2 linked regions of the Homo sapiens genome follow. The protein of the gene in region 1 purifies or fractionates together with the protein of each later gene. This does not show direct contact. Each region holds a gene or a part of one and is shown on either strand. Other genes may lie near its edges.

Region 1 (5,831 bases):
GGAATCATTCATTGAATTTTGGAGTCAGAAAAGGGCCTTAGAAATCAACCACCTATACTAACGTCTTCATTTTACATACGAAAACAAAGTACCCACTTGGTGATCGTTAGAAAAGAAACCAGATAGCCTATTATAGAATGTCCAACAGGGAAATTTTAAAAATGTAACAAAGTGCTAAAATAGTAAGCAACAATATTTGAGGAACTGGAGTAAGTAGTCACCTACAGTTCCTTTGTAACATGATGCTTCAGTTGGAAAACTGTAGGCTGCCAAAGCTCCTAAATAATTAATATTTCGAATATGCAATTTAGACCAAAAAAAAGTGCAGCTTCATAAAACCTTGGAGAAAACAACAAAAATTGTTACAAAAAATTAACTTTATTATAAGAGATTTATTACATTCAATTTGAAATAGGTATTTTCATGTGCACTTTGATTTAATATTATTAATATGGACTTCCTTCACAAAATTCACAATTTCAGTATTTCCACTTAGTTATAGTAAATTGTAAATGTTAGCTGTTCAAGAACTCAAGAAAAATGAGGGCAAAGAAAAAGGTCTGTAGCTTTCATCCAGGTTGTGATACCTTAAAAGTAAGAAATGAGACTCAGAGCTGGAGAAAGAGGACTGGTATCCTTTATAGAGAAAGAGCAATAGAGAGGACTTGAAAGTATCTGAATTATTGGCATCTTTTTATTTCCCAGAATGTCTGGAAGAGGTAAATAAGCGCTTTAGAGGGGAAAGGCATTATCTTTTTGTAATACTGAGCCTCTGGTTATTTTACCTCTCAATGCATGTGCACACCAGGCATGCACACACACAGAATATTAATAGCTGATAAGTATTCAAAGATTACATAGTACCTGAAGGAAGGCAGACCCAGGTTCATAATGACGCAAGAGAACTCTGCAGTGGGGAACCGTGGCTTCTTACTAGACATTGCTTCCCGGATATGCAGCCTCTCAGTTGAGCATGAAAGCCCTGATGCGGTTTGTAAAGTAGGCGGTAGCTGATTGTTTTACTGTGAGATGCTTGTTAACCAGACAGAGAAACTATGAGTTTTCAAAAGCACCCATGATGCCGACTGAGCTAACATGAACTAACAGAGTGTTCTGTTAACTGTTAGGTAAAGAGGTTCTCAGCTTGCCAATGTTAGTCCTTTCTTCCCAAAAAAGTGCAAATAAAAAAAAAAAAGAAATTCAGAGTTGCAAAACTGCTGCCCCATTTAAGTAAATTATAATCTAAGAAAAATCACAAGAGGATCCCACTCACATTTCTGTAAAGTTTCCACTGATCTAAGATGCTTCCAATTACAAAGAAAACGATGCTTCACTAAAGTCAGCATGTTTTCAAAATAAAGATATAATTATGTGAAGCAGAAAATCTAATAAATCACGTACTTTTCCCTCCGTAATTTTAGATTCATGTAATTTAGCTAGATTTATCTTTACATAATAGTCGAGTGAGGTATTTAAATTCTCTAAGCAATTATATTTTAATACAAGTGACTTTTCAAAACAAAAAATGTATTTGTGAAATAGAAAATACAACATTTTATTTAATATAGTTATGTTAGCACCTTTCCCAACCTACAGTGAGTTCTCAGAAGTTACCACTTCGCCCTGTCTCCGGGTTTAGTAGTTTCTCCAATCTAATTGGAACTATTACTTGTTACTTGGAAACTGACGGTCTAGTTAGTCTTCCCACTGAGAAAGAATATTTAATTATTACTGCTTTTTGGGTTTAACAAGCTTTTTGTTGTTGTTGTTGTTGTACTACGCTCCATCCTATTGACTTTTCTTCCCGGGAATCATTGCAATGACTTATTTTATATTACTATATTTTATTTCATATTTTACCTTTTCTCCACGATGCTTAAAAGAAAGGCGCTCCGAAATCTGGCTCTCTGCGCCCAGGGGAACGAGGCACAAATCTCCGCCACTCAGCCCCACTGAGCAGAGACTGCGAGTCCGAACCCTCAAGTTCCTCGGGGCTTTGACCCCTCAATGGCGGCGGTCTAACTGCTGGTAAAACCCCCGGCCCCTGACTGTTCCACCGCCCGTCTCCCAAACGCCCAGCGAAGGCTGACTTAGGTGGCGGGCGGACCTCATCGATTCCTCAAACCACATCGTTTGGTCAAAATCGCCCGCCCTCTCTTCGCTCGGATTTTAAAGGCTAGGCTTGTAAGTCAGTAAGTTAACGGTATTTGGGCCCTGGGCTGCCCTTGTGGGTCAGGGTCACTGATGTCCGCGACACGGACTGGACCGCGCACCACGCCTGCTCCCGGCAGAGGCCCCACCCGGGTGGCTGAGCGCAGCGCACTGGGGCCCCGCGGTCCGAGAGCGGCGGGGAGGAGCGGGCGCTCGCCGAGCGTTCCCCGGGACAGTCCGGCTTGGGGACTCAAGCGGGTCATGGGATGCCGGCGCTGGCCCTCTCCTGAGATCCTCCTGCTCCCCCGCAGGCACGAGTCCCCTCCAAATCGGCTCCCCTCCTACACTCTCGTGACGCGAGGTCGCGGCCAGTGCCCAATATCACCAAAGTCCCGGCCTCAGCCCAGCCCCGGGCAGCCTGGCAGGCTTTCAGGAGCCTCTGCTCCCGGCTCCGGGGGACCCTGCGTACCTGCCCCAGGTCCTCTGGGAATGGGCTCTGGGTGCCAGGCAGGTCCCGGTGCGTGCTGCTCCTAGTGCCCAGGGCCTCGGCAGTGAGACCCCAACCCGACAGCTGGATAAGGGATCAGCGATCCTGTCGCAAACGGACAGCCCCAGCGCGGACCCGGTCTGAGCGCTGATGCTCGCGGGTCCAGGCCAGCCACTCCTCGAGGCGCTCCCTCGGAGAAAGGGCGCAGCGGCCCCAAGCGTGCCCGCTGCAACTAGTGTCCCAGGTTCTCGCCGTAGCCAGCTTCTCCGGGCTACAGCCTCGTCTCCCCGCGTGCACCCCGCCCTGGCCTCGGAGGCTCTGCCCTCCGGCCGCCCCATCGCAGCCCGCCTCAGGCCCCGGCCCCCAGCCGCGCCTCACCTGTGAGAAGCAGACAGCTGAGCAGCGCGCACAGCAGGACCCCGGTGTCCCAGTAGCTGACCATGGTGAGCGCGACGCGGCCTGCTCGCCCGGTGCCCGCGCTCCCCGCGGCCAACGACCCGGCCGCCAGAGTCCGTCCTCTCGTTCGCCGCCGCCGGCCCCGCGCCCTGAGCGCCCGTCTCGCGGCTCCAGCCAGGAGACAACCACTTCCCCGGGTAATCCTCGCCGCCAGGCGCCCGCTGGCCGCTGCACCCGAGCCCCGGAGCCCGCTCCGAGCCGCCGCCGCTGCCGGGGAGGAGCCGAGAGGAGTGTCCGCCTGGCGCGCTCCGAGCCTCCCGCGGACCTCGATGAAGAGCAGCCGAGGGCGGGGGCGATTTATAACCTTTCCCCAGCCCACTTCCTACCCCGGCACCTCCTTCTGGTGACGTCAAGGGGTCCCCCACCCCTCATCCGCCTCCCCACCTACCCTCTTCTTCCTCCCAGGCTCGCTTCCCTGCGGCTACGGAGAGGGGCGGGGGCCGACGAGGGCGGGTGGCCCGGGGCCGAGCGCGCGTGGGGAGGTGCTGGCGACGCGGGCCCGGGAGCGCGGCCCCGGCAGGTTCAGGGTCTTTGCTCCGCGCCCTCTTGCCCTTGCCCCTCCTCCTGCCCATCGCGCTCAGGAAATCCTTGCAGACTCCCTCCACCCGGCTTACTCAGCTCTGGGGGCCGCCCGAAACTGGGGAAGGGACAAGGCTGAAGCTCCGCCGCCTGGCCCTAGGGGCGGAAAGTCCGATCCAAGGGAAGCTGGCCGCGCCTCCGCGACGGTGTTCTTGGCACGGAGGACTGAGGCGCAGTCCGGCTGTCTCCCCTTGCCTGCTCTTCCCGCGCTGTCCCGCCGCTCCTGACCCCTTCAGACTGTCCCGAGAAGTCTAGGAAGGCACCGGAGACCCTCGGCACAAGGCACTGAACCTGGAGCGCCTGAGGGGAACTGACGCTTGCTTGGCACCTTTGGGAAGACTGCGAACCAGCTCAGGTCCCAGGGGAGCGTGTCCGTGTCTTTTTCGGCCGCATTGATGCACCCGCCCAAGTCATTTCCTCAGTCTTCTGCTTCCTAGAAGCAAAACAAGGAATAACATTATGATACCTTTAAAAAGCTGAGGCGTGAAACTGCTCCTGCAACTTGGAAGCGCAGGGCACTTGAACTTTATTCCCTAAATGCTCGAAAAAGAAATCTTTCTGGTGGCAGCTTGCTACTCAAGATGAGTGACTCTGACCACAACCGGCTGAAATTAACTTGAGGCCCTAGATCATTTGCTATGACACTAATTCCACGTTGTTCCTCAATTATGTCTCCATTACCTCAAAGGCTGAAGTCGTCCTGGCTGCACGGAGCAGCCCAGTCTTGTCTCTGTAAATACCGCAGATTTGAAAAATAGTCCTATTGGAACCCGTCAGAGGGATGTAATACAAGGGACTGTGATGGCTCTTGAACGGAGCCAGAGACTCTTCCTGAAGGACTGGACTACCTCCCCGCCTAGGAAGGTTGGGTAACCCAAAGTTGCCACATTTCTGGGCTGCACACCAAGGAGAGGCCCCGGCCACTCCACACAGGAAATGCACGTCTGGGCACCTGGAGCCGCAGGACCTGAGCCACTAACTGTCCCTGGATCCCTTCTGCTTCAGAGGCAAGGAAGACTGCCGGAGTCATTGCTTGCCTGCTGGCTTCACCAGCGCTTTCTGTTTTTCCAGTTCTCCTCACCACTCTTCCTGGCGCCTTTCTCTGCCTCCCGCACCCCTGCCTCCTCTAAAACCCACAGCATCATCCCTCAGAACAGCTGGAAGCGGACAGCTGATCCTTCTCCTTGCTGGTCCCCCAGCCCAGAACACAGCCTGGGACATACGTGCGGAGCCACAGTGTCTGTTGGTCTCACCTGAGAGCTGCTTGTCACTCCCACACCCTCTTTCAAGGAGAAGCTGTCAGCATTGTCCTTCTGCAGCATTCAACAGGGGCCAGGCATTGGGTTAGGGCTGAAAACACTGATGGAGAGCCATCATCTTTGCCTTCTAAAGGGCTTGGACTGTGATAAGAAGGTGGACACTTGAAGTGGCTGCAGGACCGGCATTCCAGTGCTGGAGGGGTGTTTAGTCCTCCATCAGCTCAGAGAAGTAAAGGCACATTTATTGGCAGGGAAAACCCAAGGAGGGCTTCTCAGGAGAGACACACATTTGACTCTGGGGGAAAGTGGTCCATAGTACCATGTACAAAGGTTTAATTTGCTAATACATTTTTTCAAATGCCATTTTGATATTTTTAACTCATAAAGAGACAACACTTTCCAAACCTGCTGCCAGCAATGAATCTACATTGTGTCTGTAAAGCCAGAACAGGTATTTGATGGACAGCTGAAACAATCTTTATAATCTAAGATGCTAATCAATGATATTAACATGTTGCTCAATTATTTAAGGTTAGTAGAGTCACAGTCGAATCTAAGATTTATATTAAAACTATGCTGCAGTAAGGGTGGGCTTCCACATTTCCCAACTACTCTTTTGAAAAGTTGCTTTTAATTAGAGTCAGCAATTTATTGACTATGACTTCTTTGTTAGTTGCATTAGCGTTCTCACAAAGAACTCAAAAATGCTACAAATTTTAGCTTAGATATGGGGAATAAATGTATAGCTCCCAATCCTCTCCCCAAAAGAGATAATACCTTTGAATGAGAATGGGCTATAGCACTCTCCTAACTAAATCACTAATGAAAGAGGTTTTATAGATAATACTGATGGAGAAGATGGAATTCAACACGCCTGGTGGGTATAAAAAGCTATTGAA
Region 2 (5,107 bases), on another chromosome or scaffold:
AAGCCAAGAGGAATTGTTGCTAATGAGAGACAAAGATCTGAAAGAAAAACAATCACTGGGCTTGTGTTTAATCACTTTTTATTTTCTCAGATCTCCATCATGTCATTATCTGGCTTTGGTGCTTACATAACTTAACTAGGAGAGTTCAGGCAGCAATGGGAATAGGAGGGCAAAATGAAAGGTTAACAATTTAAATGGATCACCTGCAGATGCGTGATATGGATGGAGATGAAGCCTATTAAGGACCTAATTTTAGAAGAAGCTCTTGACATCAATCATTTGTGAAAAGGGTTTTTTTTTTTTTCTTACCTACACACAAGGTTTTGTACACTTGTCTACAAACCTTAAGCATTGATGCATCTGATCATCAGCTTGTGGGATTACTAACACCAAGCCACTTTGAAAGAGCAGTCAAGGTTATTAACTTTGGCAGGAAATGAAAATTTGGCCTTAATATACATGTGAAATTGAATTGTCTGTAGCACAAAGCTTTGGAGATTACCCATGCAAAATGAGAAAACTATCTAAATTTAAAATTGTCCTCAGTACAGGGAAAGTAATTTTGCAGACAGCATTTTTACTGCATTGAAATCCGTGAAGATTGGCTCTATTAATTTAAATTTAAACAGAGGTTCTGTGTCTTCTAAAAATCGCAAATGAGATGGAAAATGTACTTCAAGGGAAAAAATGGGTTTCTGGATATGCTGCAGGCAGGCAGGCAGGCTTCCTACTCCACATCTTTGAGTCTGCCCTGAGACCAGTTAGCTTCAGAGGGAAGGCTCTTTCCACTGTGACAGGCATTTGAAATAAGGACATGCAGACAATGCCTCTATTACATATTTCAGGCTTCAAGAGTAGGGTAAGAAACTGATCAAGTAGAGCCCAAGGCAAAAGTCATTGGTGGCTTTTACATTACATTTACCAAAGTAGGTGGGCCCTCGACAGAAAAAAATCTAGGGGTTGAATATTTTTTCTCAGCTATCAAATAACTTTCTTATAATCCCTGCCTGGAAGGATACTGGGGCAGGGGATTTGGTTACATTAACTACCTTTTCACAAAAAAAAAAAAAAAAACACACACACACACAAAACAAACTTTTACGTAAAGAGAAATTGAAATTTTCATTCCCTGGTCTTTGAATTTCTTTAGTTCACAACAAACCCTTTCTTATTAAATAATTATTGGTAAATCAATTACATTTATTTGGAACCCTAGTTTAATGACACATCATTTCGACATCAAGAAGAATACATTAACACAATAACCAGAGTACAACAAAGACTAATAATAGGCTGTGTGTCTCTTTATTGGCCAGAGCCTTAGAGACCTTATTATTTAATAGAGTTGTCATAATGAGGAAACTGAGGACAAGTAAGTGGTTGGCTTATGCTGGTTCGTAGAGTTGCTTACTAATAGAGCTGAGCCTAGAATTAAAGTCACCCAAACTTCCAGATCATTAATAAATTTGCTACAGGTTATCAAAAATCGCTGCTGAGTAGACACCATGCCAAAAATAATAAAATAACTGCCTTTCCTCATCTTTACATTGTTTCCTTTTTTTTTTTTCAGGTATTGCTGTGCTTTACTTACATCTTTATGATGTATTTGGGGACCCTGCCTACCTACAGTTAGCACATGGCTATGTAAAGCAAAGTCTGAACTGCTTAACCAAGCGCTCCATCACCTTCCTTTGTGGGGATGCAGGCCCCCTGGCAGTGGCCGCTGTGCTATATCACAAGATGAACAATGAGAAGCAGGCAGAAGATTGCATCACACGGTAATCATGTTTCTATATGAGGATTATTTTCTAGCATCATTATGCATTAATTCTGCATGTGTTAACAAAAGAACATTCTAGTGAGTTTACTTTTCTCTTAGCAGATAAATCTCACTGCTGTCATTTGATCAATTGTCATATTCCTGTGTTGTAGTTAAGGAACAACGATTATAATCCCTATTTTAGTGCAAGATAAAAGACACTGTCATGTTCCAGATTAAACATCAGTTCAATAATGTAAATGAGATCGAAAGCCTTAACATATGATTACTAATCCAAAGTGCTATCCAAGATCTGTAATTCAAGGAAATGCAGTTCAGTTCCTACAGGTGGGCTGGGAGAGTCCTTCTAAGGGACCACAGACTGATTCAAAACGGCCTTTCTTAGAGGCAATGACATGCACATCCTGATTTTCATTTTGGTATAAATTATGGTGGTCCACTAGAAGCTGGTGAATTATGAAGAATTATTAAATGTTTGTACTAATAGACTTTAATTGTTGCCTTACCAGAGTTTATTAAGCACTCTTTCGGAGTTCTAAGAACCCTGGCTGCCGTGCAACTCTGCATGCATCGCTCTTAGGCTCCACTGCGCGTGCTAACACTCCAGCAACGTTTTAACCAGTGACTGTCCCTGAGTTGACCATGGTGTTTGATTCCCACTATTCTTTCTTATAGATTACTGTTAGGATGGCATTACCATCACCAATTTAGTTTGTCTAGGATCCGTTGGCTAATCTTATACTGTTTGCTGGTGTATATTTAAACAACAGGCTTTTTGGACTTTTTAAGATATCATAGTGCTGTATTCAAAAAAGGAATGATTTATACCCCTATTGTTTAGGCGTGTGTGTGTGTGTGTGTGTGTGTGTGTGTGTGTGTGTGTGTATGTATGCATATCTCCCTTCTCTCCCAATTTTTTCCCATGCAGTGATATTTTCTTATTGTAACTAACTTTTTCCACTGGAAAGTGTAACAAAAAGAAGGGGTGGGAGTCTTGCTCCACCCAAAATGATTTGGGAATCATTATATTGGATCATTTTCTGAATTGACGTATTCTTCAAAACACCTTTTTTTAAATACATGCCTATGCTACATTTCTTAGGGGCTAGACATTACATAGTATAACTTTAAAAACACATTACTTAGTGTGTCTAGAGGAAAAAAACTGAACATTCCACTCCAGAGCTGAGAAGCTTTTAATATAAAACCTGTCACCAAGCTCGACCAAAATGAAAGATGAAACAAAACAGTGATTTCCCCCAAAGTTTAAAGTGTGTTCCTTCCATAGTAGCTGACTTGCATAAGACTTGCCAATACAAAAACTGTTCCATACTCACCTAAATTTGAAACACAGAGACTACCTTTTAATTTTTTTTACATAGCTGATGTTTAAAGCCATCAGCCAACAACTGCTTTAGAGGTCCACAAGATACTCTCATTCAGTGAATCACTTGTTAAGTACCATCAGATAAATTGTAGTGCTCCCAATATTCTATATATAATGCCAGCCTTTCCATAATACATGCAGCCACATTTTAATAGTTTGCTATGTGAGAAATGTTAATGTGTTCAATGAGACCAAGATTCATAGATTCAAACAGATGGGAATTTGTATCAAAGCACTAATTAAACAAAATTAAATATGTGTCTTTACCGGCTGCTTAGCTTCTTCTGTAGCTTGTATACCTGGGGACAACACGCCAACTCTAGGGAGCAGCACTTGCCAATGTTAACTCACCTATACAACCCTCTTCTTCATGAAATCTTGAGGGCCTATTCTAACACACTCTTTGGGAAATGGTACAATATCAATATTAGTGTATTAAAATGCTCCTAAGAGTATGCTAAGATTTTTGTTGTTTTTGGTATATTGGTACTAAGGGTGTTGTTGTCATTTACCTTTTTAAATTTTGACATTTCGACAGTATTTATAGCCAGTAGGCTTGTTAAGGTTAAAAATATAGTATGTGAATATAATAGGAAAATACACTATTTGTGGCTATAGCTTTGATTTTTTTCAGATTTTTTATTTTATACAAAACAGAAAAAGAATGACTTGGAATGATTTGTAAGTTACGGAGTTTGCTTTATCTTTTCAAAGGAAAAATCTAGAAATTTGACTTAATTTCAAGAAATCCAAAATTATTTAATATAAGTTATTTAGTAAACCTCCTTTAACTTTTTACTAAACCTTTTTTCTCATTTTACAGACCTTTTGAGATCCCACGCTCACATTCTCTGTGTACTGCCTTTGTTGTGCTTCATTGCCAACATCATGTTCTAGCTAGCTTGCTTTTTCTACATTTTCTTAATGTAATGTTCTTTCAAAAGCATAATTTTTAAGTTTTAGAGACCAGACAGTCCTTTGAGATCATCAAAAGTCTAATCCTTACAGAAATTGAAATCCAAGGAAATCAGTGTTTCCCTATAGTACATATTCTTAACCTTGGGCCAGAATCTTAGGGTTTCTGGCAGTGTATAAAACCCCCAAATTATATTCAAGGAGGGAGCATTTGTGCTTTTCTTAAAGGGATCTATAACTCCCCAAAAGGAGGGTGTGTGTGTGTATGTTCATGTTCAAATTGTCCTACAAATGGCTGGGGAGTGGAGGGGAGGACAATACATTGCATTAATTTGTTCTACTGCCTGATACATATCAGATCTGTTTTCATCCCACCCACTTCTACACATCAGTGCCACAACATGAATAAAGTGTGTTGCCTGTTCCCAATTAGATGGCTAACCTAACATTTATAGTGCTTTGGGGCCAGTACTTAGAATGATGAAGCGCTCTGGCTTTCTGGTCCAGAAATATATAACCTCCCTTCTTGTAGTGTGACGAGTCAGTAATGGACATCTTTTTTTTTTTTTTAATAAGCAGAAAAGGGATTTAAAAATATTTATTGTGGTAAAATATACATAACATAAAATTTGCAATTTAACCATTTTTAAATGTACAGTTCATTGGCATTAATTATATTCACAGTGTTGTACAACCATCAGCACTATTTATTTTCAAAAAATGTTTTATTACTCCAACAGAAACTGTACCCATTAAAAAGTAATTCCCCATACCCCCATACCATCATCCCCTGGTAATCTATATTCTACTTTTTCTATGAATTTGCTTATTTTACGTATTTTATATAAGTGGATTATACATTTGTTCTTTTGTGTCTGGCTTACTCCATTTAGCATAGTGTCTTCAAGGTTTATCTACGTTATAGAATGTATCAAAACTTTGTTCCTTTCAATGACTGAATAATATTCCATTATATGTATATACCACATTTCTTTTTTATCTCAGAAAAGGAATTTTTAAAAGGC

What was found. The genes of interacting proteins can lie anywhere in the genome.
Region 2: the proteins of FLT1 (region 1) and LANCL1 purify together in Homo sapiens (affinity purification with mass spectrometry; one large-scale study listed by BioGRID and IntAct). This does not show direct contact.

Annotation. Positions count from the first base shown.
Region 1 is NC_000013.11:28,491,764-28,497,594, forward strand, and holds the start of FLT1 (vascular endothelial growth factor receptor 1 isoform 1 precursor), read right to left. Parts: upstream 3,366-5,831; 5' UTR 3,081-3,365; coding exon 3,017-3,080; intron 1-3,016. UniProt on the Homo sapiens protein: Tyrosine-protein kinase that acts as a cell-surface receptor for VEGFA, VEGFB and PGF, and plays an essential role in the development of embryonic vasculature, the regulation of angiogenesis, cell survival, cell migration, macrophage function, chemotaxis, and cancer cell invasion.
Region 2 is NC_000002.12:210,451,778-210,456,884, reverse strand, and holds part of LANCL1 (glutathione S-transferase LANCL1), read left to right. Parts: intron 1-1,570; coding exon 1,571-1,778; intron 1,779-5,107. UniProt on the Homo sapiens protein: Functions as a glutathione transferase. Catalyzes conjugation of the glutathione (GSH) to artificial substrates 1-chloro-2,4-dinitrobenzene (CDNB) and p-nitrophenyl acetate.